3 separate regions of the Homo sapiens genome follow, and regions 2 and 3 are each linked to region 1. The links come from fine-mapping of genetic effects on gene expression. A gene starts in region 1. Each other region holds a variant in brackets. All regions are shown on one strand. Distances are between the middles of the regions.

Region 1 (8,176 bases):
TTGACCTTTGGGTAAATTACTTCTCTGTGCCTCAGTTTCTACAACCATAAAATGGTAGGCTGTAAAGTAACAATAACTATCTCCCAGATCCTTGAGAGGCACAAGAGACCACTCAAATTAAAGTGCTTTAATTTGATTTAATTTAATGGCAGATGTGAGTGCTCACTGCATCAGGGATTCAACTTATATGAACTGTGCGCCTCCTGGGTGCCAAGCACTGTGTTAGACACTCATAAATATAATGAAAACTTCATAGAAGTGGAGTACAAAGTAGAGAAGAGCCAAGAAGAAAGAGAACAGTCAGCTCTTCGTAGCCAAGCTCTGTGGAGCCTGCCCTGAAGAATGCTGTATAATGGACCTGTCTCCTCCAAGTGTCCATCCCTCTAGGCCCTAGATGCTTTGTTCCAAAGACCTGCATTAAATTCCACCCAGTTGTGCAGGGAGTGAATTGGGAGGTAGGAGCATCGAAGAGCAGGGCTTGGAAAAGCCCAGGACTGCCCAGGGCAGGGTACAGCTAGATCTGTAGGCCAGGGAGCCAGGCGGAGTCCACAATCTCCCCCGTCTTCTGCCAGAATCCCCTCCTCCCTGGCAGCCGGGCACCCAGCATTAGAAGAGATCGACCCAGGCACAGGCTGTAAGAGCCCTCAGCCCACTGGAGGGGAGGATTACTCAACTGGTAAATCCTGCCTTCCCTATAATCCTAGTGCTCAGAGAAAGATGCTAAGCTGCGCTCCCTCTCAACCAGCTCTGGCCAATTCCAAAGTGGAGCAACTCCCCAAGTTTTCATGCTCTTCTTCATTCTCCTGACCCTTTCAACCTGATTCCCTCAAGTTCCCCCTTCAGTTCTGTCCACACCATGTGAATGAGGCATTTCCCTCCCAATCCTGTTCCCCAAGAGTATCCCACTCGTCCTGCTTGCCTCCACCCTACTAGGACAAATAGGGGGGCCCTGTACCATTTTGGGGTTATGAACAAGGTCCCAGTTCAACCTTGTAACCCCTTAAGGGGTTCAAACGAAATTCCCCTCTCTCCTTTGAGGAACCAAGGAGCATATTTTCCAAAGAGCTGGCCTAATGGAAATATAAAGCCCGTTGCTACTGGGCCCAGTTAGAGTGCCTTCAGCCCTTAGGCAGGAAGTAGGGCTTCTTCTGGCAGAAGAGGGATATGTTTGTAGTGCTGGTGGGGACCCTGTGTACTGTCTGGGCACTGCACAACTTCAGGGGGCACCATTTCTATTGTGGCACCCCTAGAGTTATGCAATGCAGTGGCTCTGAGCTAGCAGCCTCCTTCCTGCCTTTCTGCAGAGGCTGTCAACAGATCCCCAGGGCCAGGCCCTCTTGCCCAGCCTTCTTTGTCCTACTTCTCTCCCTGACCCTGTCCTCCTGCAGCCAGGACTACCTTAAATGGGGTTTTAGAGGACATCTGTCCTACAAAAGCCTGAGGCTACCAAAATCAACACACACCTAAAGCTTTCCCATGAATCTTACATGTGCAAGTCCTGAAGACTTTCAAATCTAGTGCCTTTCTTCTGATGAGCATGAGAGGAAGGGGGAAGTGGTTGGCACCAATACAGAGAGACAGGTGGGTAGCCCAGTGCCATGGGGTCAAGCAGTAAGTCATTTATTCTCACCCACGGAGCTGGCTATTGGAAGCAGGTGGAAGAAGGGAGGTGGGGAGGAATCTTTTATTTTAAACCTTTCCTGTTCTGATTAAGCATTTCTTTTCCCTCTGACCTTCACTGGTCCCATTTTGGCAGATCAAACAGCCAGCGAGTCGGAGGGAGGCCTAGGCCAGTGACACATGGATTCCGGATGGGCCGGCCTGCTGCCGCCCCCTCGCTGCTGTGGCCGGGCTGCTGCCCAGGAAGCGGCAGGAGACTGCGGCTCATCTGCGCTGGGCCTGCAGGTGCTTCGGGAAGGCCTCGCGGGGCTCCAGGCTCCTGCGGCTGGACAGGTCGCATGTGGGGCGAAGGCGGAGATCAGCAGCCCATCGCGGGGCCCGGCCACTCAGCCTGGAGACCTGGCTGCCCGTGGTTCCTGCTGTCCTCTGTGAATTACAACCTGCCAGTTTGACTTTGGGGAGAAACAGTCACTTGTCTGACGGTAACAAAAAGATCCAAATCTCTGCCTCTTCCCATCACTTGGCTGGATAGCCTATGAAGCATGTGTGTTTTAAACAAATTTCCAAGGAACTTGTGGATGCACGCAGTTTAAGGAGAAAACGGGAGAGGTCATGGTGTGGCCTGCGTTGTACTGGGTGGGTCGGACGAGGGAACCTGGGGAAGGAGGAGTAAGGGCCAGGGTCCTAGAAGAGGTTTTCTGGGGTCAGGGCCGCGGTGAGCACCAGGTCGCCAGGAGCAGCCGGCGTCGCCTCTGGCGCATCCGGGCCCATCCCCCACAGCACCCCCAACGATCTCGGGGTCCAGCCACACCCTCCGCCCGCCCTGCCTCACCCCTGCTTCCCCAGCCCCCAACCCGGCCCGGCCGAGAGGAAGGAGCCAGCCCCGCCGGGCCGCCGCCTGCGACTTCCCCTCTGATCCACAGGTGCCGGTAAACAAAAGTGCCGCAGCTACCCCCCCGCCCCCACCCCGCGGAGTTCGGCCCAAGGTTACGCCGGGGTTCGGGCGGCGCCCGCCGGGGGCCCCCAAACCCAGCTTCTGGACTCTCCCCGGCTTCTCAAGCCCACCGGGCCGGGAGCCTTCCTCTGGCTCCGAGCTGCTCCCCTCGCTCCAGGCTGGATTCCCCCCTGAAATGTTGGTCCGGGAAAACCAGCCTGGGTCCTCGCGCGCCCTTCTGCACGGGGACCCCAGCCCACCCCCGTACGGACACGCCTTCCACCATCTCGCCTAGAAGGCTGCTGGGACCCCAGACCCAGAGCCCCGGTCACACTCCCGTCCCATGCTGTCCCCCTCCCGCAAAGCCCACGGTGGGAACAGAGGGCACCGCGCGAGCCGATGCCACCCTCACTGCCGGCCCCACCCAGACCTGCCGGTGCTGCAGTGCCCCGTATGTGCAGCCTGCAGCATCCCAGCGGCTGGGGCAGGCCCGGGGGCGGCTCGCACAACGCAGCTGGGGACCGGGTCGGGGTCCAGCGGCAGCCGGGGTCCGGGTCCCCCCGGCCCCGCACCCCTTCCCACTCCCGGCCCGCAGGGGAGACCCCGGAGCGCGCGACCCCGGAGCGTCGGGCAGGTGTGGAGCTGGGGGTCCCGGGGCTGGGGGGTCCCAGGGCCGCCGGCCCGGGCCGCAGGGACAGGGGAGGGGCGCTGGGCTGTGACCCCCAGTACTGTTTACTTTCCGTGTAATTAGCCGGCCAGGCTGCGGAGCCTCGGGCTGCGACGTGCGGCGGCCGCTCCCGCAGACCCCGGAGCTCAATCCCCGAACCCGCAACCCCGGGTCTCTGCCTTGGCAGCCCTGCGGACTCACGTCTCGGAAGCGGTTCCAGTGCTTGATCTTGCCGCTGTACTGCGAGATGGACGACAGCCATTGCTCGTCCTCCATGAAATTGCCGGGGGTCTCGCCCTCCTTGAGCCCCTTGGCGTCGCCTTCGGCCAGGGCTGCCGCGGCCAGGAGCAGCAGCGGCAGCACCAGCCGCCCGCAGCCCGGGGCGCGCATCGTGGTCTGGGTTCGACCTGGGGGGGTCTTGACTTCTGCAGTATTTTAATGTCCTTCCTCCCACCCCGCTGCTGGCGAAGCGCACGCGGCTGTCCTCAGCTCTCCTCCCGCGGTCTGCCTCCGGTGACTGGCGGAGAGTGGGTCGCGGCTGAAATGTGACCTGGTTAGGAGATGCACTTGTCTGAAAAAGCCCAGCACTGGACGCGGAGAGGGAGAGAGAATCAGAGAGGCTGCGCCAGCAGGGGCTGTAACTGTAGCATCAGCATCACGTTTGACATCATCATACCTGGTTTAAAAAAAAAAAAAAAAAAGGAGTGGGTAGATTTCAAAGCGAAGCGCTCCCTCGATGAGAGCGCCAAACGCCAGCCAGCCGCAGCGGGGCCCAGCCCCGCCTGGCACACAGGGAGTTGCAGACCAAGAAATCCAGAATCCCGAAATGTCCCTGAGCTCCCTCAAAGGATGGAGAGCAAGAAGGGCCCCAGGATCTCCCCGGGGAAGATGGGATGGGGGAGAGGGCACAAAACTCTCCGGTTACAAAGCCAGCCAGGCTCAGGTGTCGGAAAGGGAATTTGGCCAGACACTGTTTTTCTCCCCTTGCCTCCCACCCAGAGGGGCCTGCGCCACAGCCCTGACAGCTGGCTTCCTGCGAGTTATGGCTCTACCGTAATGGGTGGCTTCGTTAAGACAAAAGCCGTATAACAACTGGCTGCTCAGAACCATTGCTCCCCAGCGGCACCGCGTTGCGCAAGGCAAGGCCTGAGCACTGAGTGGCTGGTGAAACAGAGGCAGATGTCCTCCTCCCCAGGCAGCTGTTTAGGGGCTGTCACCCGTTTTGTCAGCTCTTCCCAGGACAACCCTAAAAGGCAAATGTCTGACCATTTCATCTGCCTTGGAGGCTGCAAATTTGGAAAAGGCATATTTGCTTATGGTTTTTTGACTTCAAGTTAGTTTGAATAAGCCACTGGGGAAGCCGGGGAGTGGGGGGCTGGGGTGGGGTGCTGGTTTTGTTTGAGGTGTTTCGGGTTTTGTTGAAACTGCGACCCTCCTTATTGGCTGTAGATTTAAATGTTGACATACCAGCGGGGAAGGCTGGAGGCTGGCCACAGTCCCAAGAGCACAGCAGAAATGGGGACAGGTTTACATTACAAATACATTAAAGAGGAAACATCATCTGATGGGACAAAACCTAGTGAACTTTTGGGACCCAAGCCCTAGATTGTGTTTTTATAAAAAGACTTAGCTGCTGTGATCTAAAAATAAAATAAAAATTTAAAATGCTTTAAAAAACATAATCTTAATCAGTAGGAAAAAACATAGCTTACAAGGTTCCTTGTCACCCTGAATCTGGCCTATCTGGGAACTCTGAATGCCTCAGTGGCTCAGGCCGGAGTCTCGTTGGGAAAACAGAAAACAATAGCTCCCTTTCCATGTTTTCTTGTTTCCTTTGCTGTTGGATTTAGTGGTGGTGCTGCAGTGAGGCCCTGGCCATTGACGTCTTCATCTCACAGTAATAAAGCATTCTTCCTGGGTGTGTCCTGGCGCTGTACAGTGAGAGAGCACGGCTTGCTGTCGTGGAGACTAGAGGACAGAATCCCACTTACTGGCTGGATTCTTGAGCAATTACCTATTTTCTATCTAAAACTAATGGTAATACCATCATTAAAACTGCTGTAAAGTGCAAGCAAAATTACATACTAAGTGGGCATAATGGGCATTTTTTTAAAAAGTTAGTCTTTCCTCTGGTTGGGAAGAGAAGGCTACGGTGTCCCATAGTTCTGAAGATTCATCAAAATTTGCCATCTTTTCCACCATCTCAATCCTACAATCCTAGTTTTTTGTTGTTTTTTTTTTTTTTGTTTCTGTTTTCGTTTTTAGCAAAGCTAGCTATATATCTCTAAGGCACTTAGGAGATAGGTACCAGATACCACAGCTCTCCCATTCCTGTGCTATCTTAGGGGCTTCCAGAGTTACCAAAGTTGCTGAATAAAGAGTTTGGAAAGGTGCTGTCAAGATGCCCATCAATATGACAATAGCTGTCTCCAGACTCTGAGGGTCAAAATGGCTCCCACAGTCCCAGGTAGCTTCTCCAGTGGGACTTGCCTTCTGTAGCACCTTCAAGCTGGGTCAATACTAGTCCTGTGTCGAAAGCTAATCAACAACATTCCAGTCCCATTAGTGAAGCCAATAGTAATGCTATTTAGGAAGAAGAACCCAAATTTCCAGATGACTGGTGTAAAACTTGTAGGAAATGGCCAATAGTTTTAGTTTACAAAGAAGAAAAAAAGGGCCAGGTGTGCTGACTCACACCTGTAATCCCAGCACTTTAGGAGGCCAAGAGGCAGGAGGATGGCTTGAGCCTAGGAGTTCCAGACCATCGTGGGCAACATAGCGAGACCCTATCTCTATACAAAATTTAAAAAATGAGCCACGTTGCACATGCCTGTGGTCCCAGCTACTCGGAGGCTGAGGTGAGAGGACTGCTTGAGCCTCGGAATTAAGGCTACACTGGGCTAGCATCGTGCCACTGCACTCCAGCTGGAGAAACAGAGCGAGACTCTTTCTCAAAAGAAAACAGAAAAGAAGAAAAAGAAAAGGTTTTTCAATTTTTTTTTTTTTTTTTTTTGAGATGGAGTCTCACTCTGTCGCCCAGGCTGGAGAGCAGTGGTGCGATCTCGGCTCATTGCAACCTCCGCCTCCCAAGTTTAAGGGATTCTCCTGCCTCAGCCTCCCGAGTACCTGGGATTACAGGTGCCCGTCCCCATGCTCAGCTAATTTTTGTATTTTTAGTAGAAATGGGGTTTCACCATGTTGGCCAAGCTGGTCTTGAACTCCTGGCTTCAGGTGATCCTCCCTCCTCAGCCTCCCAAAGTGCTGGGATTACAAGCATAAGCCACCACACCCAGCTTGGTTTTCCTCATGTTTGAAAGAATTACTGGCAGGTTAGCCTTTTCAAGACAATAGCCCCAAACATGAGGAGCTGCTGCTAGGTATATGTATTAAGTGGTACATATATTTTACACATTTTTCTGTTTGCACTTAATATTTAGCAATTCTAAAATGGAGAAGAGAAACCTTAGTTTCCTCATAAGAAACCCAAATTGAATACATCGAGTTTCGCTCTTGCCCAGGCTGGAGTGCAATGGCGCGATCTCAGCTTACTGCAACCTCTGCCTCCCAGGTTCAAAAGCAAATCTCCTGCCTCAGCCTCCCGAGTAGCTGGGATTACAGGAACGCACCAACACACCCGGCTAATTTTGTATTTTTAGTAGAGATGGGGTTTCTCCATGTTGGTCTGGCTGGTCTCAAACTGATCTCATGTGATCCATCCGCATTGGCCTCCCAAAGTGCTGGAATTACCAGCATGAGCCACCGTGCCTGGCCTGAATGTATCTTAAAATCCATTTAATTCCATTTCTAGATGACCCCACAAGCACAAAAAGATAAACACACAAAGATCCAGAATTGTTCATAATAGCCCATCCTGGAAACCAATTCAATGTCCATTAGCCAGGAACCACCTAATTAAAGGATAAAACATACCTGTAACAGACTATTGTGCAGACATTACAAATAATGATGTAGATCTGTATCTATTAAAGACCAATGTGATCCACTATGTATTGCTGGGTGAGAAAAGCTCGTTATATAAGATCATATATAATAGGATCCCATTTGGAAGTATAGTATAGTATAGCCATTCTCAAACTTTCTGGCGTCAGGAGCCCTTAACACTAAAAAATTATTGAGGACCCCAAAGAACTTTTGTTTCTGTGAGTTATATATATAGTGATATTTACTGTATTTGAAAATCAAATTAAGAATTTAAATTTATTTTAAAATAATAAATGTACCCATTTCATATTAACAGAATATTTTATGAAAAACAACCGTCTCTACCGCTCCCCCAAATTAGTAAGAGAGTGGCACTGTTTTACAGTTTTACAAATCTCTTTAGTGTCTGGTCAGAAGAAGACAGAGTCTGGCATAAGCTTCTGCATTACAGCACGTGTATCCATTGCTGGGGCTGCCGTAACAAAGTACCACAGACTGGGTGGCTTCAACAACAGACGATTATTTTCTCACAGTTCTGGAGGCTCAGAGTTCAAGATCAAACTGTTGGTGGGTCTGGTTTCTCCTGAGCCCTCTCTTCATGGCCTGCAGGGTGGCCGCCTTCTTGCTGTGTCTTCGTTTCCTCTGTGCACACACTAGTCTGGTGTCTCTGTGTGTCCAAATTCCCTCTTCTTATAAAGACACCAGACAGATTGCATTAGGGCCGACCCTAACAGCCTCACTTTAACCTAATCACCCCACTAAAAGCCCAATCCCCAAATAAACAGTCACATTCTGAGTTACTGGGAGTTAGAGCTTCAACATGTAGATTTTGGGTGGTCATGACTCAGCAGCAGGTATAAATGAAAATAGCCAGTAAGAGCACAGTAGAAGCACTGGCAGCAAACTGAGTTAATCTCTGAAAACACATATATTTATACCCTAAATCTATCAATTTACAATATTCTAGAAAACAAAAGTACACACACACACATTCTACTAATTATCAGAGTGAT
Region 2 (8,176 bases), 56 kb before region 1:
AAATGCAGACATAATGGCAAGACTCAAGCCGCCATATTGGAGTGTGGGGTAAAAGCCACTCACTGAGGACAGCAGAACTGGATAGACGTCTCCTGAGTCCTTGATAATTATGGAGGCACCACGCTAGCCTTGGACAGCCTATCTCTGGAATGTGTGTGAAGTTTGTGTTTCATAATGTTGCTGTAATTTTGGGTGCTCTATTACTCAAGAGTGAATCTAATCCTCGCTAAATCAGAGGTGTCACACGTCGTGCCACTACTCATTAATTTGGGGCATTAGATTTACTTTCAAATTGTTGTTATTCTAAATAGCATAACATGAACCTCTTTATGTAAAAAACTCAATCTGCATCTCTGGGGTTTTTTTTTCTCGTACTCTATTATCTTCCTAGGATACATTTCTGTTAACAGAATTTTAGCATCAAAGAATATCTAGGCTGGGTGTGGTGGCTCACGCCTGTGATCCCAGCACTTTGGGAGGCCAAGGCGGGTGGATCACCTGAAGTCAGGAGTTCGAGACCAGCATGGCCAACATGGTGAAACCCCGTCTCTACTAATAATACAAAAATTAGCCCGGTGTGATGGTAAATGCCTGTAATCCCAGCTACTTGGGAAGCTGAGACATGAGAATCACTTAAACCCAGGAGGCAGAGGCTGCAATGAGCCGAGATCGCGCCACTGCACTCCACCCTGGGCGACACAGTGAGACTCTGTCTCAAAACAACAACAACAAAAATCTACATTTTAGTATCTCTCAATTCATGCTGCCAACTAATGTTCTTTTTGTTGTTGTTTTTGTTTTTAAAAAATAATAGACATGGGGTCTCCCTATGTTGCCCAGGCTGGTCTCTAACTCCTGGGCTCAAGCAGTCCTCCCACCTGAACCTCCCAAAGTACTGAGATTACAGGCCTGAGCCACTATCCCAGCCTACCAACCAATGTTCTGAAATGGTTGTACAAATGACATTCCTGCCAGTTGCATATTTGAATGCCTATTTCACAGTTCCTGCACTAGTACAGGAGGCAAGGGAGTATACGCTTTCTGTCCCCCAGCCATGCCCTTTGAACCACTCTGGACTTGAGCTGCAGCTGGGCAGTCTCTCCTGTCCCCACTCACAGCTTCCCCCTCTCAGGTGCCAGTAACATCTCCCAATTTCCTGACCCCAGACTTTCTCCAAAGCTCCAGAAGCTTACTCAGCTCTCATGCAGGTGAAGTGTGGCAAGGAGTTAGTGCCCCAAGGAGACGAGAGATGCTGAAACACACCTGGGTGTTTTTTATTTGTTTGTATTGGTTTTTTTCCCTTTTATTTTCAATTGACATATAATAATTGTATATATTTATGGGATACAGAGTGGTGTTTTGATAAGTGTTGGTTTTGGTAGTGATTTATAAAAGAGGAATAACTGAGTCAACTGGAGCTATTTTTGAGGATAGAGGTGAGGACCAGATAATAACAAAATAACAATAGCAATTATTTGTTTAACACCTACTCTGTACCAGATACTGTTTCGCTGTTGACGTAAAACAATCTTGGCCAGGCGTGGTGGCTCACGTCTGTAATCCCAGCACTTTGGGAGGCTGAGGTGGGCGGATCACCTAAGGTCAGGAGTTCAGCCTGGCCAACATGGTGAAACCCCGTCTCTACTAAAATACAAAAATTAGCCCAACCTGGTGGTGCTCACCTGTAATCCCAGCTACTCGGGAGGCTGAGGCAGGAGAATCACTTGAACCCGGGAGGCAGAGGTTGCAGTGAGCCGAGATTGCGTCATTGTATTCCAGCCTGTGCAACAGAGCGGGACTCCTTCTCAAAAAAAGCAAAACAAAACAGAAACTAAACAAAAATAAAACAATCTCTCAGCAACTCTGCAAACTAGATTATTTTATTATTCCCACTTTGCAGATGAGGAAACCAGGGCTTGGAGGTGTAAAGTAACTTGCTCAAGGTCTTGAAGTTATGAGGCTGAAGCAATACGGCTTGAACAAAGACTGAGCCCCACCTCGTCTGAGGTGGCGGAATATGAGGAACATGGTCTTAGGAGGGAGGAAAGAGTGGATGATCCGAAATGAATCCCAGTTTCCCCTACAAAATATGAGGGTCATGTGCAGGGAACCCTGACCAGTCCTCCTGTGAGTGTGTGTGTGTGTGTGTGTGTGTGTGTGTGTGTGTATTAGGATGGATGGGACAAAGTGATACATTACAAAAAGCCGGGAGAAGGAGCTTGGTCCAATGCTAACCGGCGCCATGGGAGTGAGGCTCCTATCTTCCTACAGAGAGTGGGAGCAGGGGCCCTATCTTCGGGGCTTGGCTGGAACAAACAGTTCTGGCGGCAGCCTTGTGTTTGTTCTCTCGGGCAGGCAGCTTAAGGGGAGGCAGGGTCATCCTGGACTGCGGCCTTGAGCTGTTGCAAACACTGCCTCACCTCCCGCCTCACCCCACGCAGTGCTGGAACTCTGGGCAGGGGGACAATGGTGGGTCTGTGAGGGTGTCAGGTTGTCAGGAACAAGGCTGGTGGCTTTGAGCAAGTTGTGCAACCCCTTCCAGCCCCAGGTACTCATCCTTCCAGTGGAGGATGTCACGGCTGCCTTCACAGGAGATGGAAAGATCAGCCCCTCTCCCAGCTTCTTGTGGTTCATTTGCCTGACTCTCCTGAGCCTCCGCTCAACTCCTCCCCATTTCCTTCTTCTCCCAGTTTTTTTGTTTTTGTTTTTTTTGTTTTGGGGGTTTTTTGTGATGGAGTCTCACTCTGTCGCCCAGGCTGAAGTGTAGTGGCGCAATCTCGGCTCATTGCAGCCTCCGCCTCCCGAGTTCAAGCAATTCTCGGGCGTCAGCCTCCCAAGCAGCTGGAAATAGAGGTGCCCACCACCACACCTGGCTAACTTTTTTTTTAATCTGAAAAGCCAGTAAAAATGCTGAGAGGTCCCTCTGCTACCAAGGTATGTGGGCACGTGGAAGGGGTCAGCTGCCTTGTCCAGATGCTGAGGGGCTGGTAGAGAGAAACATCAGCAGATGGGAGGGCTGCTACTGTCCCACAGAGAAGGGCCAGCTTGAAGCCATGGGCTTAGGGACCCAATGTTTGGGCTGACTGTTGTTAAGAACACAGTTTTGACGTTCCCCTGAGCTGAGTTCCCGTCCCGGCTCACAGTGCTTCCCTGGCTGGGCAACCTGGGGCTTGTGATTGTCCCTTTCACAGCCTCAGTTTTCTCAGCCCTGAACGTTGTGAATGTTGTGAGATTTGAATGAGATAATGCAGACAGAGCTTAAAAAGAGGCCGGATGCAGCAGCTCGCACCTGTAATCCCAGCACTTTGGGAGGCCGAGGCAGGAGGATCATTTGAGGACAGGAGCTGGAGACTAACCTGGGCAACCTAGCGAGATCCCATTTCTATGGAAAATTTAAAAATTAGCCCGGCGTGGTGGCATATGCCTGTAGTCCCAGCTACTTAGGAGGCTGAATCGGGAGGATCACTTGAGCCCAGAACATCGAGGCTGCAGTGAGCTGAGATGTAGCCACTGCACTCCAGCCTGGGCAACAGAGTGGTACCTTGACTCCAAAAAAAGGCGGACAGGAGGGCTTAGAAAAGAGCTTGGCATGTAGAAAGCCCTCCAAATGTTAATTTATAATTATGGCAGGGATGAATTTCAAAATCATAAAGTGCTCACAGACAACAAGCTGCCTTGTCCACAGAGATGGCTGCAATTCCTCTGGAATACTGGGGGAGGGTGAACAGTGATGACTAAATCCCCCTCCTCTCAGGCCCCAGGACTCCAGGGCAGCACTCTTCTTAGCCCTGGGTGTGTGGGGGGGTAAAGCATGGGACCCTCCTTCCAGTCCCCACTGCCAGCCTCCCTGGCCCCCCAACACCCTGTCCTGCTCTGTGCCAGGAGGCTGCTCACAACCCCCGGAGCACCTTATTCCTGTGACTGGGCCGAAAGACGAGGCTGGGCGCAAGCCCGGAGCCCAGTGATGTGTCACACGTGAATCTGTCACATGTGAAGACACAGAAACAGCCCCTTGGCTGTTACTAAAGGGAAAAGAGGCCAGCAAGGTGACTCACACCTGTAATTCCAGTGTCAGAGGCATGTGAACCAGAGCAGCTCCATCTTGAATAGAAGCTGGGTAAAATGAGGCTGAAACCCACTGGGCTGCATTTCCGGATAGTTAAGACATTCTAAGTCACAGGATGAGACAGGAGGTCAGCACAAAATGCTGGTCATAAAGACCTAGCTGATGAAACAGCTTGCAGTAAAGAAGCCACTAAATCCTACCAAAACCAAGATGGTGACGAGAGTGACCTCTGGTCATCCTCACTGCTACACTCCCACCAGCGCCATGACAGTTTACAGATGCCATGGCAACATCAGGAAGTTACCCTATATGGTCTAAAAAGGGGAGGCATGAATAATCCACCCCTTTTTTTTTTAGCATATCATCAATAAATAACCATAAAAATGGGCAAACAGCAGTTCTCAGGGCTGCTCTGTCTATGGAGTAGCCATTCTTTTATTCCTTTACTTTCTTAATAAACCTGCTTTCACTGCACCGCAGACTTGCCCTGAATTCTTTCTTGCACGAGATCCAAGAACCCTCTCTTGGGACATGGGGTGGGGACCCCTTTCCTGTAACATTGGCACTTTGGGAGGTCAAAGTAGAAGGATAGTTGGAGCCCAGGAGTTTGAGACCAGCCCTAGCAACATAGCAAGACCCCATTTCTACAAAGAAATTAAAAAATGTATTAGCTGGGAGTGGTGGCATGAACCTGTAGTCCCAGGTACCCAGGAGGCTGAGGCAGGAGGATCGCTTGAGCCCAGAAGGGCGAGGATGCAGTGATCTGTGATCGTGCCACTGCACTCCAGCCTGGATGACAGACCTGTCTCAAAAAAATAATAATAAAAAGAAAAAGGAAAGAAAAGAAATGCTCCTTTTCCAAACCTTTCCCCTGAAGAGAGCCTAGCCTTAGACTCTGGCCCGTTCCCTCCCAGGCACTCCAGACTCTTGTGTCATGGGATG[AC/A]CCCCCCCCCCACACACACACACACCAGCCCTGTGTCTCTCCCTGGGTGCTTTTCATCCCCGTATTAATTCTCCAACCTTTGTTGGTGAATCCTCCCCACTCCCCGCATATGATCTCTCACATGGGGCTTTAACTGATTTTAAAAAATAACATGAACAAACAGTGAAACTAAAAGCACAGCTATGTTGAAGCCTGGTCCTCTAACCTAGTTTCAAATAATAATAATGATAATGATAAATACAGCTATTATTTATTGTGCTTTGTTGGAAGGACATTAGACAATAATTCAACATTCACAAAAATCCTGGGGTAGGTATCATGATCACCTGCATTTTACAGATAGGAAACTGAGTCATGGAGACATTAAGCCACTTGCCCAAGATCACACAGATCAAGGGAAGATTGTATAAAGCCCCTTCCCACACCAGCTGCCGCTTCCCGACTGCAGAGGCTCAGGGTGCTCTCTCTGTCCTCAGAGGCTTGTGTAACCATCTCTGTGCCCCGTTGCCCGGCCTGGACATTCTTGCTTTCAGGCGTGGGCACAGGGATCCCTCCAGTTGGCCACAGGCAGGAGCATTCTGAGTGAAATGCCAAGCCTGACTTAGAAAACTCTGCCCCAGACAGCAGCCCGATCATCCGCCACTGGTCGCCTTCCTGTGTTTATTCTGAGGCCACCATGCCTGACAAAGGCCCCTTGTCCTGTCCAAGAAGGGGACAGATTTTTAAGGACATGGATTGAGGATATGGGCTATTTATTACCAGGACTGGTTCCCTCTCCCGGAGGCGTAGGAGTTGCTGTCACGGTCTGTGTGGAAGTCGATGCTGGCCTTGCCGCCCCCTCCCCTGCTTGCTGGCCCAGCTCCCTGCCCACACTCAGATCCACCTGACAGTTTCCTCCACACACACATGCACGTGTGCACAGCTTGCCAGGGTGCAGGGCAAAGCGAAAGGGTATCTCCTGAGTCTATAATGGCCTATAGGATTCCTGCACACCTAAAGTCATTTGCAAAGTGGTGGTGCATGTGGACATGTGTGTGTCAGTGTCGCATATGCAGGACAGACTACAGAAGTTGCAGGGCCCGGGGCAAAATGAAAATGTGGCACCCCTTGTACAAAAGCATTAAGCATTTCATGATGGCAACAGCAGAGCATTAAACCAAAAATGGGGCTTTTGTGAATTTGGGGTCCTGTGCAACTGCCCAGGCCATATGCCCAGGAAGCAGGCCCTGCACACACATGTTGTGTTTACACCAAGGCACTTTTCTGGTTAAAGGGCTCCAGGCTTCCATTAGAATCTCAAAGGGTGGCAGCACAGTGGCTAACACCCATAATCTCAGCCCTCTGGGAGGCTGAGGTGGGCGGATCACTTGAGGTCAGGAGTTTGAGACCAGCCTGGCCAACATGACAAGACCCCATCTCTTCTAAAAATACAAAAATTAGCCCTGTGTGGTGGCACATGCCTGTAAACCCAGCTACTCCAGAGCTGTACTCTTGTGCCTCAGAATCACTTGAGCCGGGGAGGCAGAGGTTGCAGTGAGCTGTGATCGCACCACTGCACTCCGCCTGGGTAACATAGTGAGACTCTGTCTCAAAAAAAAAAAAAAATCTCATAGAGGTCCAGGATACTCCAAAGGTTATAAACCATTTAGTAGCAGAAGGTCAGTGTCAGACAGGCCTGGGTTTGAGTCCCAGGCACGTTACTTATCCCCTGCAGGACTGGACTAAGTTCTGTGCCCTTCCGAGCCTGTTTCCTGGTCTGTAGAAGGGGGATTGTCATAACACTGACCTCCCAGTGCAGGAGAGATGGGAGCCAGCTCGATACAGTATGTGGCATGTTTCAAGCTCCCAGTCAGTGGTTGGTTAGTTAACCTTTAGTTAGGTCTGTTCTGCTTGTTATTGTGTGATGTCACCTAGAAGTTTCTAAATCCTCCTGCCAGTTTAACCTCAGCTAGCTGTGCCTTCCGTGGATGTCCCCAGCAGGCCCAGCACAAAGCATGGCAGGAGCTCTCGGGGACCCGAGTTGGCGTTTCTGTCACCTGGTCTGCTGTGAAAAGGGGTGGGCTGCACAGGCTCAGCTGGCCTCTTCCTCCGGCCCTGAGCGTTCGTTGGCTGACCTGACGGATCTGCTGTGCAGTATCTGTACTGTAAGAACATGTGACGGGGCAGCAGCCTGAGAGGACCTAGGGCTGGCGGATGCAGGGTTCTAGGCTGAGCTCAAAGGGTCTGGGCCCCTACCTGATAGCTTCTGAGTCAGTGTCACTCTGGACAGAGCCTTTTTCCAAAGCAGGACACCCAGGAGAGGGTTCTCAGGAGACCTGGGGCCCAGTGGCCCTTGGTGGCTGTATTTCCCCTCCAGTGTGGTAGCTCCTCAGGGGTCTCTGTGCTGCCTCCCCAGTTGTCCCCACTGGGTCTGCTAGCATCACAGGGAGAAGCCCCCTGTTACCTAGTCACCCCTTCCCTCCTTTCCCCAGCCTGATCTCCTAGTCCCTCCCCTCCTCTTTCAGGGCAGAGACTCCCAGTGGAGAGGAAGGAGGGGGACACCAGGCTCTAGGGCCTGAAAGGAGGGGCTGAGACGCCTGGTGTGACCTCACCTTGGGACATTACAGCCCCTCGGGCCTCCATTTCCAAGGCTGTAGCGTGCAAGTGAAGTCTTCGCTTCTGCCCCGGGGAAGCCCTGCCCTGTGCATCCAGGGAGGCTTTTCCAACACACACAATGTGCATTTCTTTTCTTTCTTTTTTTTTTTTTTTTTTTTTGAGACAGAATCTTGCTCTGTGGCCCAGGCTGGGGTGCAGTGGTGCAATCTTGGCTGACTGCAACCTCTGCCTCCCAGGTTCAAGCGATTCTCATGCCTCAACCTCCCAAGTAGCTGGGATTACAGGCGCAAGCCACCACGCCTGGCTAATTTTTGTTTTTTCAGTAGGGATGGGGTTTCACCATGTTGTCCAGGCTGGTCTTGAACTCCTAATTTCAGGTGATCCACCCGCCTCGGCCTCCCAAAGCGCTGGGATGACAGGCGTGAGCCACCGTGCCTGGCCACGCAATGCGCATTTTTGAACTGATGAGAAATGGAAAGAACCAAAGGTCCACCACGAGGGGAGGGGCAGACACATGGCTGGAGAGTCCTATTATGAAAGGTATGCAGCAGTCAGAAGCTAGGTGGGCTGAC
Region 3 (8,176 bases), 27 kb before region 1:
TGCCCTGGCTGCAGGCTGGCACCGGGGGCTTTCGCTGTTTGGAAAGCACGGGGGCTGGTTACCACAGGTGATCCATCCAGCAGATCCTGGCCCAAGGCCACAGTTAGCAAGCTCCAGGGCTAGAGATTAGAGCTCCTGTGCCCAGATTCCATCCCCCTCCACACCGCAAACAATTTGTTAAAAGACACGTCTAGTGAGGGGTTGGCAAGGCCCAAGAGAAGAAAAGTCACAGAATAATGACGACAGTCCCCCAGCTCAGATAATCCCAGAAATAAAAGTAAGACATTTAGGTATTCTTCTGCCACACTGGCCAGGCGTGGTGGCTCATGCTTGTAATCCCAGGACTTTGGGAGGCCAAGGTGGGCAGATCAGCCTGGCCAACAGAGTGAAACCCTGTCTCTACTAAAAATACAGAAATTAGCCGGGTATGGTGGCACACACCTGTAGTCCCAGCTACTTGGGCAGCTGAGGCAGGAGAATCGCTTGAAGTGGGGAGACGGAGGTTGCAGTGAGCCGAGACTGCACCACTGCATTCCAGCCTGAGCAACAGAGCAAGACTGTCTCAAAAAAAATAATAAAAAATAAAAATACATAAAAAAATAGAATCATGGGCCGGGCATGGTGGCTCACGCCTGTAATCCCAGCACTTTGGGAGGCCAGCACGGGAGGATCACTAGAGGTCAGGAGTTCGAGACCAGCCTGGCCAACATGGTGAAACCCCGTCTCTACTTAAAATACAAAATTAGTCAGGCATGGTGGCGGGTGCCTGTAGTCCCAGCTACTTGGGAGACTGAGGCAGGATAATCACTTGAACCTGGGAGGTGGGGTGGCAGTGAGCCAAAATCGTGCCACTGCACTCCAGCCTGGGCGACAAAGCGAGACTCTGTCTCAAAAAAAAATTTAAAAATTAGAATCATAATGCTAACAAGCATGTAAGGGCCCGATACATACTCCACTAGCGGCGCTGTCTCAACTGGTTTTACCTTTCTCACAAGCCGTTTGCTAAGAGGTGGTTGAAGTCTTTGAAAAGCTCATACCCTGGATGAAAATGCTCTGGAGTTGGATTGTGGTGACGGCTGTATGACACTGCGAACGTACTAAATGCCACTGAATTGTACTGTACTGTATTTTTATCTTTTAAGAGATAGTCTCCCTCTGTTGCCCAGGCTGGAATGCAGTGGCACGACCATAGCTCACTGCAGCCTCAACCTCCTAGGCTCAAGCAATCCTTAGCCTCACCCACTGCCCCTCCTTCTCAGCCTAATTTTTTTGTTTTGATAGATACGGGGTCTCACTATGTTGCCTAGGCCAGTCTCAAACTCCTGGGCTCAAGGGATTGTCCTGCCTCAGCCTCCCAAAGTGCTGGGATTATAGGTGTGAGCCACCACGCTCAGCCATAAATGCTGTTTTCGTGAAAAATAATACCAAGGGTAAGAATAATCAGAGTATTGCCAGCAGATGGTGTTTATAAAGTTTTTATTTTCCATTTTCTTAAAAATAACATTTGATTTCCTTTATGCATGTGTGGAGTGTACTTGTTTCCTTAGGCTGAGTAATAGGCAGATAAAGACGACACGAGGCAGGGTCCCCAAGTGGAGGCGGGGCGGGACGTGAGAGGATGGGGGCGCAGGGGAAAGGCAGGGCTGGATGACTCACGGGACTCTTGAGTGCCCATCAACGCACACGCACACAGTCTAACACTTTGTTTTTCAATTTTTTAAAAGACATCTAAAATTACTGAGAGATACAATTTCAGCAGTTAAATCTACAGACGGAAATCCAAGCACTTGAACACAATTCCTAACTCTAAGCTCAGTTATTGCACATCACACAGTTTAAGCAGGCTTCAGGCTGGAAAGCAGTTTGCTCTGCTGGGAACTTCCTCGGGATGTCTGGGTCTCCTTCTGTGGTGTCTCTCCCCTGGGACTGCCGCCAGCCCGCAGCCTCTCGACGACCCCAGGTATCAAAGCTCAGCCATTTGTTCTCCCCAGGGGCTGAGGGCTCGGGCTTTGGTGAAGCAGAGGGTCCCCGTGTTGATGCCAACGGACCCCACCCCCTCCAAAGTGAAGTTGGAAGCAGGTGAAGCTCATGGAAGGCTGAAGGCAGGCGGGCTGGAGTGAAGGGGGGTGACCACCCCCCACGTGTGGGACAACAGGGGGCAGTCAAGATGCCGCCACCCACCACCCCTCCCTTCCAAGCTCCCAGGCCATGCTTCCTTCTCCATCACCCTTGGACCCTCTCTGAGTGGTCTCTCAAGGCACATTTATTTTCTCTGCTGCAACCTACCAGATCTGACATCCACCTCCCCCAGCACCCATGGGCCAAGGAGGCCTGGGGCAGCCAAGGGGAGTTCCAGGACCAAGCAAGCAAGAAACCGTTCTTTGAACACATGGTTAAGCTTCTTCCAGCATGGCCCTAATTCCCCTACCTGCCTAAGCCAGGGGAGTGGGGGCAGGAAGGAGCGAGGCATCGAGGAGAGGGCACTGGAGGGGCTGGGTGGCAGGCCCCTTGGTCAAGGTCACAAATCAAGGAGCTGAGGAAGGACCGATCTGCAACCTTGCTCATGAGGAAACCTTAACCTTGTCTAACAAAAAGCCACTTTGAGGCCGCCCTTCAGCTCCACAGGGAGCTGCTGTTTTGTCTACCTTTTGAGGGGACCAGTCTCAGTAGGGCGAAAGGCAGTGTGGGGGCTTCGGAAACAGGCAAGGCTGGACCCCTGCAATCCTACCAGAGGCTAGTTCAGTCCCTTTTGCTTTCTTCCTAAAACATATTTACAAGGACACACAAACGTGCACAGCCAGAAGACCCAGAGACAGAGAGAGCACGTGTCCCAGGAGCGGAGGGTGACATCAAGAGGACAGGGGACACCCTTCCTCTGAACTCCTTCCTTCCCCAGGCCCCCCAGCATCCTTAACAACCCCCACCCCCACCCCGAGGAGGAAAGTTCCAGAACTCCAGCTGGGACAAATGGAAGAGATAGGTAGACTCCAATCCTAGCAAGAGCAGAAGTTTCAAGTAGCTCCGAGTCAGAGGCGCGGCTGCCTCAGAGAGCAGAGGGCTGATGTGGAACAGCATTTCCCTGAACTGAGCCGGGGCTGGAGTGGGGAGGTGAAGGACAGAGAGAGGACAGGAGAAAGAGGGGACTGGGGGACCTGGAACGACGCGACACCTCAACAATCAGAACTGGGCTGCGGAATGGGAAGCAGTTTATGGAGTTAAGTGGGGCTCTGCTATTTCCCCCAAGAAGGACTCGGAAGATGTTGATTCCAGGGCAGAGTGAGGGGCAGACAGGATGAGGCTCTTCTGTAAAGTCCAACAGACGCTCACAGATGCTGGGAGGCTGGGGACTGCCAGGTTGGGAGCCTCACCCAGAGAGCCTCACTGCATTGACCCCACACCCACCACTCACCCAGCACACAGGGGGCCTCTCCTCACGCTCCCAGGCCACCAGGATGGCCCCCAGGTTCACACACAGGCACACGCACACACGCTGCACTCACCACGCACTGAAGGGCATCACAGCCCCAAGTCTGGGTAAGAAATTCTCCACCAAAGGTGTTAAGGAATTTGCTTTGCTGAGGAGAACTGGATGGGTGGGGGAAAACAGCAACAAACAAACAAAAGAAATGCACAGGGCCTCTTCTCATCTGGTGAGATGAGCTCACACTGCTCAGGGGATGTTGGGGAACAGCGAGGTGTGAGGTGTGGCCTCAGAGCCCGGCTGCACCTGTCCTGTTCCCTCTGACTTCTCACTTTTCCACATTGCAGGCTTCAAAACAGAGCTTGGGGAAGCCCCTCTGCGGGGCAGCCCTAGGGAATCCTCAGAGGGGCCAGAAGGAAGCCCTGGGGGCTGAGGGAAGTGGGGCTGGACATGGCCTGTGGGTGGCTCTCCCCTGGCAGGAGGAAGATCATGGTCTCAGAGTGCGGAAAGGCTGCAGCTTTCGGCAGCTGCTTCTCTCCGGGGTCTCAGGGACAGCTCTCTCTGTTGGTCTGGGCAGGACAGGAGTGTTAAGGGTCAGGGAGGAGGTGGGCACACACCCCCTTAGCCTAGACCCAGGCTCCTTGCCTGCTGCTCCTGGCCCTCAGGCGCCCTCAAGTGGATGAGGGGACCCCAGCAAGGGGGATGGAGGCAGGAGTTGCACCAAGGGGGAGCCAGGCAGAGGTCAACTGTGTAACCACCACCCAGTGTCCCCAAGAGAGCAGCCCAGATCATGGCTCCACCACGAGACCCAGAGAAAAGGGACAGGCTATTCCAGGGTCTAGGATTCAGAGCTGCCCCATCTCAACACCTAAAAGCTCCCCCAGGCTCTGCAGCCACAGCCTCCTCCTGCTGAGCCGACCCCCTCTCCTCACCCTGTTCTACCTGCACCACCTGGGCCACCTGGGACAGACCTCAGACAGCTTGGCGAGGCACCCTGTCCCTGGCCTCTCAGCTGCTGCCCTCCTCCTCTGCCGCCACCACCTTCATTCTCCGCCTTGGGTTAGGAGAGCTTCTCTAGTGTTTGGGGATCCGGCAAAGGGACAGGGCTTGCTGTGGCTGGGCGTCCTGGCCCGTCTCATCTGAGGCTGGTGGGGATGTCACACCACATCGGCCCAGTTTTGGGAGGACCTCAGCTGGTAGACAGCTCCCTGCCCCTCCCTCCCCTTTGCAATGGGGACAGGCTCGCAGGCCAGAGCTTGACCTCAGAAGCAAGAGGGAGAAGGGCAGACAGGGGTCGGTTGAGCCAGGGTAGAAACCAAGGGGAGCCAGGGTAGAAACCAAGGGGTCAGGGCTGGGCTGGAGGACACGGCTGGGGGATCTCATTTCATGGATTTTGACCTGTCAATTTGTATTTGTGTGTGAATGTATTTTAAAACCAACAACAAAAGGAAAGAAAACAGCTACAAGGAGGCCGAAGGGGCCTTTGGGT[G/T]ACTCACTCTGCCAGGAGCAGTGTGGATCAAGGACACATTTGTCAGCGCATGCCACACACACACACACATACACACATGCATGCACACATGCACTCACACTGTCACCCGTCCCAGCCATCTGTGCCACACACATGCCATGCACACTCACACTCCCAGTCCCCCCAGGTGGAGCAGGGTCCTTCTGACTGCATTTCTGGATCCGTTCTCGAAGTTGCCTGCTGCTGCTCAGAGCTCTGCTGTTGAGTCCCCCCCGGCAGCCGGCTCCTGAGGGCGTCTACCAGATGTAGCCCCCGTCGTCAGCCTCGCCTGCCTCGCCCTCCTCCTCCTCGGCCTCCTCGCCTGCTTCCTCCGTCTCCTTCTCCTCCTCATCCTCCCAGCCGACACCGCTTCCAAAGTCCCCCGAGAAGCCCACGATGTCATCTGTGAGGGGATCAAGCCAACAGGGGGTGAGGGAGCTTCTGGCACGCACCCCCCAGCATCCCACGACAAGGGCCCCCAGGCCTGGGCCCCCAGCAGGCCCTGAGCTGCCCAGCCCGTACCGCAGTCGGGGCTCCCATGCGTGCGCGTGCCAGTCAGCTCCAGGCCCAGCTGGTCCACACACCAGCAGTCACCGCTGCTCTGGTCACACTGCATCTTCCGGTAGTAGCCATCCTCGTCGCAGCTCGGGATGAAGATGCCTGAATGAGACAGTGCCAGGCAGGGTCAGAGCAGGGGCCCAGGCTGTGGGCCCCTCAGAGAGGTGACCTCAGGTCCTCATGCATGAGCAGAAGTCTATACACCCCCAGAGCCCAGCCAGACCGGGTGCTGACCCCCCAACAGGCCCAGATGCTGAGAGCTGGACACCAGCCAGCAATTCTTTCGGCTCTACTCGCTGGAGATGAGGAAACCCGCTTCCTTGAACCACTGCTCAGGCCCCTGTGCTAGCTCCCAGCCGCCCCATCAGTTTCCCTGACTCCATGGCCCAAGTCTTCTAGGACAGCCAGTCTGACTTCACCAGGTTTGACACTCTCCATCCTCCCACAGTTCCGCCGGCCTGGCTGTCCCCTGCTAGGAAGGCCCAGCCTTCTCCTCCCAGCCACTCTGAGTCCGACCTGCCTCCGGGGCCCACTTGCTTTCCTGCAGGCTCCCCAGCTGAAGCTCCCAGGCGCCTGTGTACAGGTCACACTGCTAGTTCTGTCTTTTTAGTGTGTCCATTTGTGTGTTGTGTGTTTCCGGACTGGCCCGAGCTAAAGGGTTATGAGGCCAGGGAGTGCATCCTTCTTGCCATCCGCTCAGAGTTGGGCTGGGTCTATTGCTGTTGTATCTCTGGGGCCGGCCCCCAGGTGTTTATGGAGCATGTGAGTGAGTGTCACTCAGGGAGTGGCCTCACTAAAACATTAGTCACACCCTTGCTGAAGGAAACTGAACTCAGTGGAGGGTTCCAGGATCCTTCTGTATCCCAAACTCTAGCTCCAGCATGGATGGGCATAAAATTAGTGCCTAAAACACACTTTTCCCGGGGCAGATTGGGAGTCCCTGCCCCACCACAAGGATAGACACAGGAAGGGGGCAACCCTCTTCTGTCTTCCTAGGCCAGGGCCTCCTCTGGGCTCCATGTCTGCCATGAGGCCCAAGGCTGGAGGCCCTGGGTCTCAGACAAACCCAGGAAGCCGTCCCCACCTCCTCCTCTGAGAGCCTGGTCTGGCCCCTCACCTGGCTTCTTCTTGGCGGCCTCCTGGATCTGGATGCGCTCCAGCTCTGCCAGGCAGGGGGGCTCTGTGGGGAGAGAAGCAGCCTCTGATGGGACTGTCCCCTGGTGCTGGGGGGATGCACTGAGCCCTTCAAGGCTTAGAGACCCAGGCAGGGGCTCTGCAAGATGAAAACACCCCGTTTCTGACACGGGGTCACCCCACAGCAGGGGTGGGAAGTACAAGGGTTCTATGGCACGAAAACGCTCACTCTCTATTTAGGGGAGCTCATTCCACAGCTGTGGATGACCTGAGGTCCCCAAGAAGTCCTAGGGACCCATGAGAGGAGTAACAGGATTCAGAAGAGGAGGTGGGGTGAACACACAGACACCCAAGTATGAGAGAGCCCAGGGGAACGTAATGCTAGAGGGAATGTTAGAGAGAACTCCCAGGCCTGAAAATACAGCCACGCGCTACACAACAACACTTCAGTCAACAATGGACGGTGGCCCCATAAGATTACAACACTATTTTTACTGTACCTTTTCTATGCTTAGTTATGTTTATTTTTTTATTTTTTATTTATTTATTTTTTTGAGACGGAGTCTTGCTCTGTCACCCAGGCTGGAGTGCATTGGCGCGATCTCGGCTCACTGCAAGCTCTGCCTCCCGGGTTCACGCCATTCTCCTGCCTCAGCCTCCCGAGCAGCTGGGACTACAGGCGCCCGCCACCACGCCTGGCTAATTTTTTGTATTTTTAGTAGAGACGGGGTTTCACCCTGTTAGCCAGGATGGTCTTGATCTCCTGACCTCATAATCTGCCCGCCTCAGCCCCGCAAAGTGCTGGGATTACAGGCATGAGCCACCGCGCCCAGCCTTATTTTATTTTTTGAGATAAATAAAATAAATTTTTGCTCTCGTCGCCCAGGCTGGAGTGCAACGGCACGATCTTGGCTCACTGCAACCTCTGCCTCCCGGGTTCAAGTGATTCTCCTGCCTCAGCCTCCCAAGTAGCTGAGATTACAGGCACCTGCCACCATGCCTGGCTAATTTTTGTATTTTTAGTAGAGACAGGATTTCACCATGTTGGTCAGGCTGGTCTCAAACTCCTGACCTCAGGTGATCCACCCACCTCGGCCTCCCAAAGTGCTGGGATTACAGGCGTGAGCCACCGCGCCCGGTCTATGTTTAGCTATGTTTAGATGCACAAATGCTTACCATTGTGTTACAACTGCCTGCAGTATTCAGCACATAACATGCTGCACAGGTTGTAACCTGGGAGCAATGGGCCAGGTGCACAGGAGGCCGCACCACCAAGGTCTGTGTAAGTACTCCTATGATGCTTGCACAGTGACAAAATCACCTAATGATGCATTTCTCAGAATGTATCCCCCTCGTCAAGTGACGCATGACTGTAACCGGCAGCCAGCCTCTAACTTGTCTGCGACCTTGGGAAGTCCCCACCTCTCCAAGCTGGAAGCCTGCCTGGTTGTAAAATGAGGACAGTTCCCGGCCTCCTGCCCAAGAAAGTACAGAATGGATGGAGTGGCCTTCAAAGGCCCAGAAAGTCAAAGTGCTGGAGTGATGCTGGTCGCAGG

The links. PIP is the estimated chance that this variant, and not a neighbour inherited with it, causes the effect.
Region 2: its variant is the best candidate, but not a certain one, in a credible set for the expression of SPOCK2 in whole blood (INTERVAL, PIP 0.72).
Region 3: its variant is the best candidate, but not a certain one, in a credible set for the expression of SPOCK2 in whole blood (TOPMed, PIP 0.87).

What each region holds. Positions count from the first base shown.
Region 1 is chr10:72,084,718-72,092,893 of GRCh38, forward strand. SPOCK2 (SPARC (osteonectin), cwcv and kazal like domains proteoglycan 2) reads right to left here and starts at 3,834. Exons shown (of 11, transcript NM_001244950.2): 1 at 3,423-3,834. The coding sequence starts at 3,611.
Region 2 is chr10:72,028,576-72,036,751 of GRCh38, forward strand. It overlaps LOC124902448 (a long non-coding RNA gene), which reads left to right. Exons shown (of 2, transcript XR_007062187.1): 2 at 1-344. Among named protein-coding and RNA genes, the nearest start is that of SPOCK2, 56 kb to the right of the region's middle. The variant AC/A (reference allele first, on the strand shown) is at 5,009.
Region 3 is chr10:72,057,575-72,065,750 of GRCh38, forward strand. It overlaps SPOCK2 (SPARC (osteonectin), cwcv and kazal like domains proteoglycan 2), which reads right to left. Exons shown (of 11, transcript NM_001244950.2): 9 at 6,604-6,666; 10 at 5,451-5,588; 11 at 1,460-5,331. The coding sequence ends at 5,186. Among named protein-coding and RNA genes, the nearest start is that of SPOCK2, 27 kb to the right of the region's middle. The variant G/T (reference allele first, on the strand shown) is at 4,911.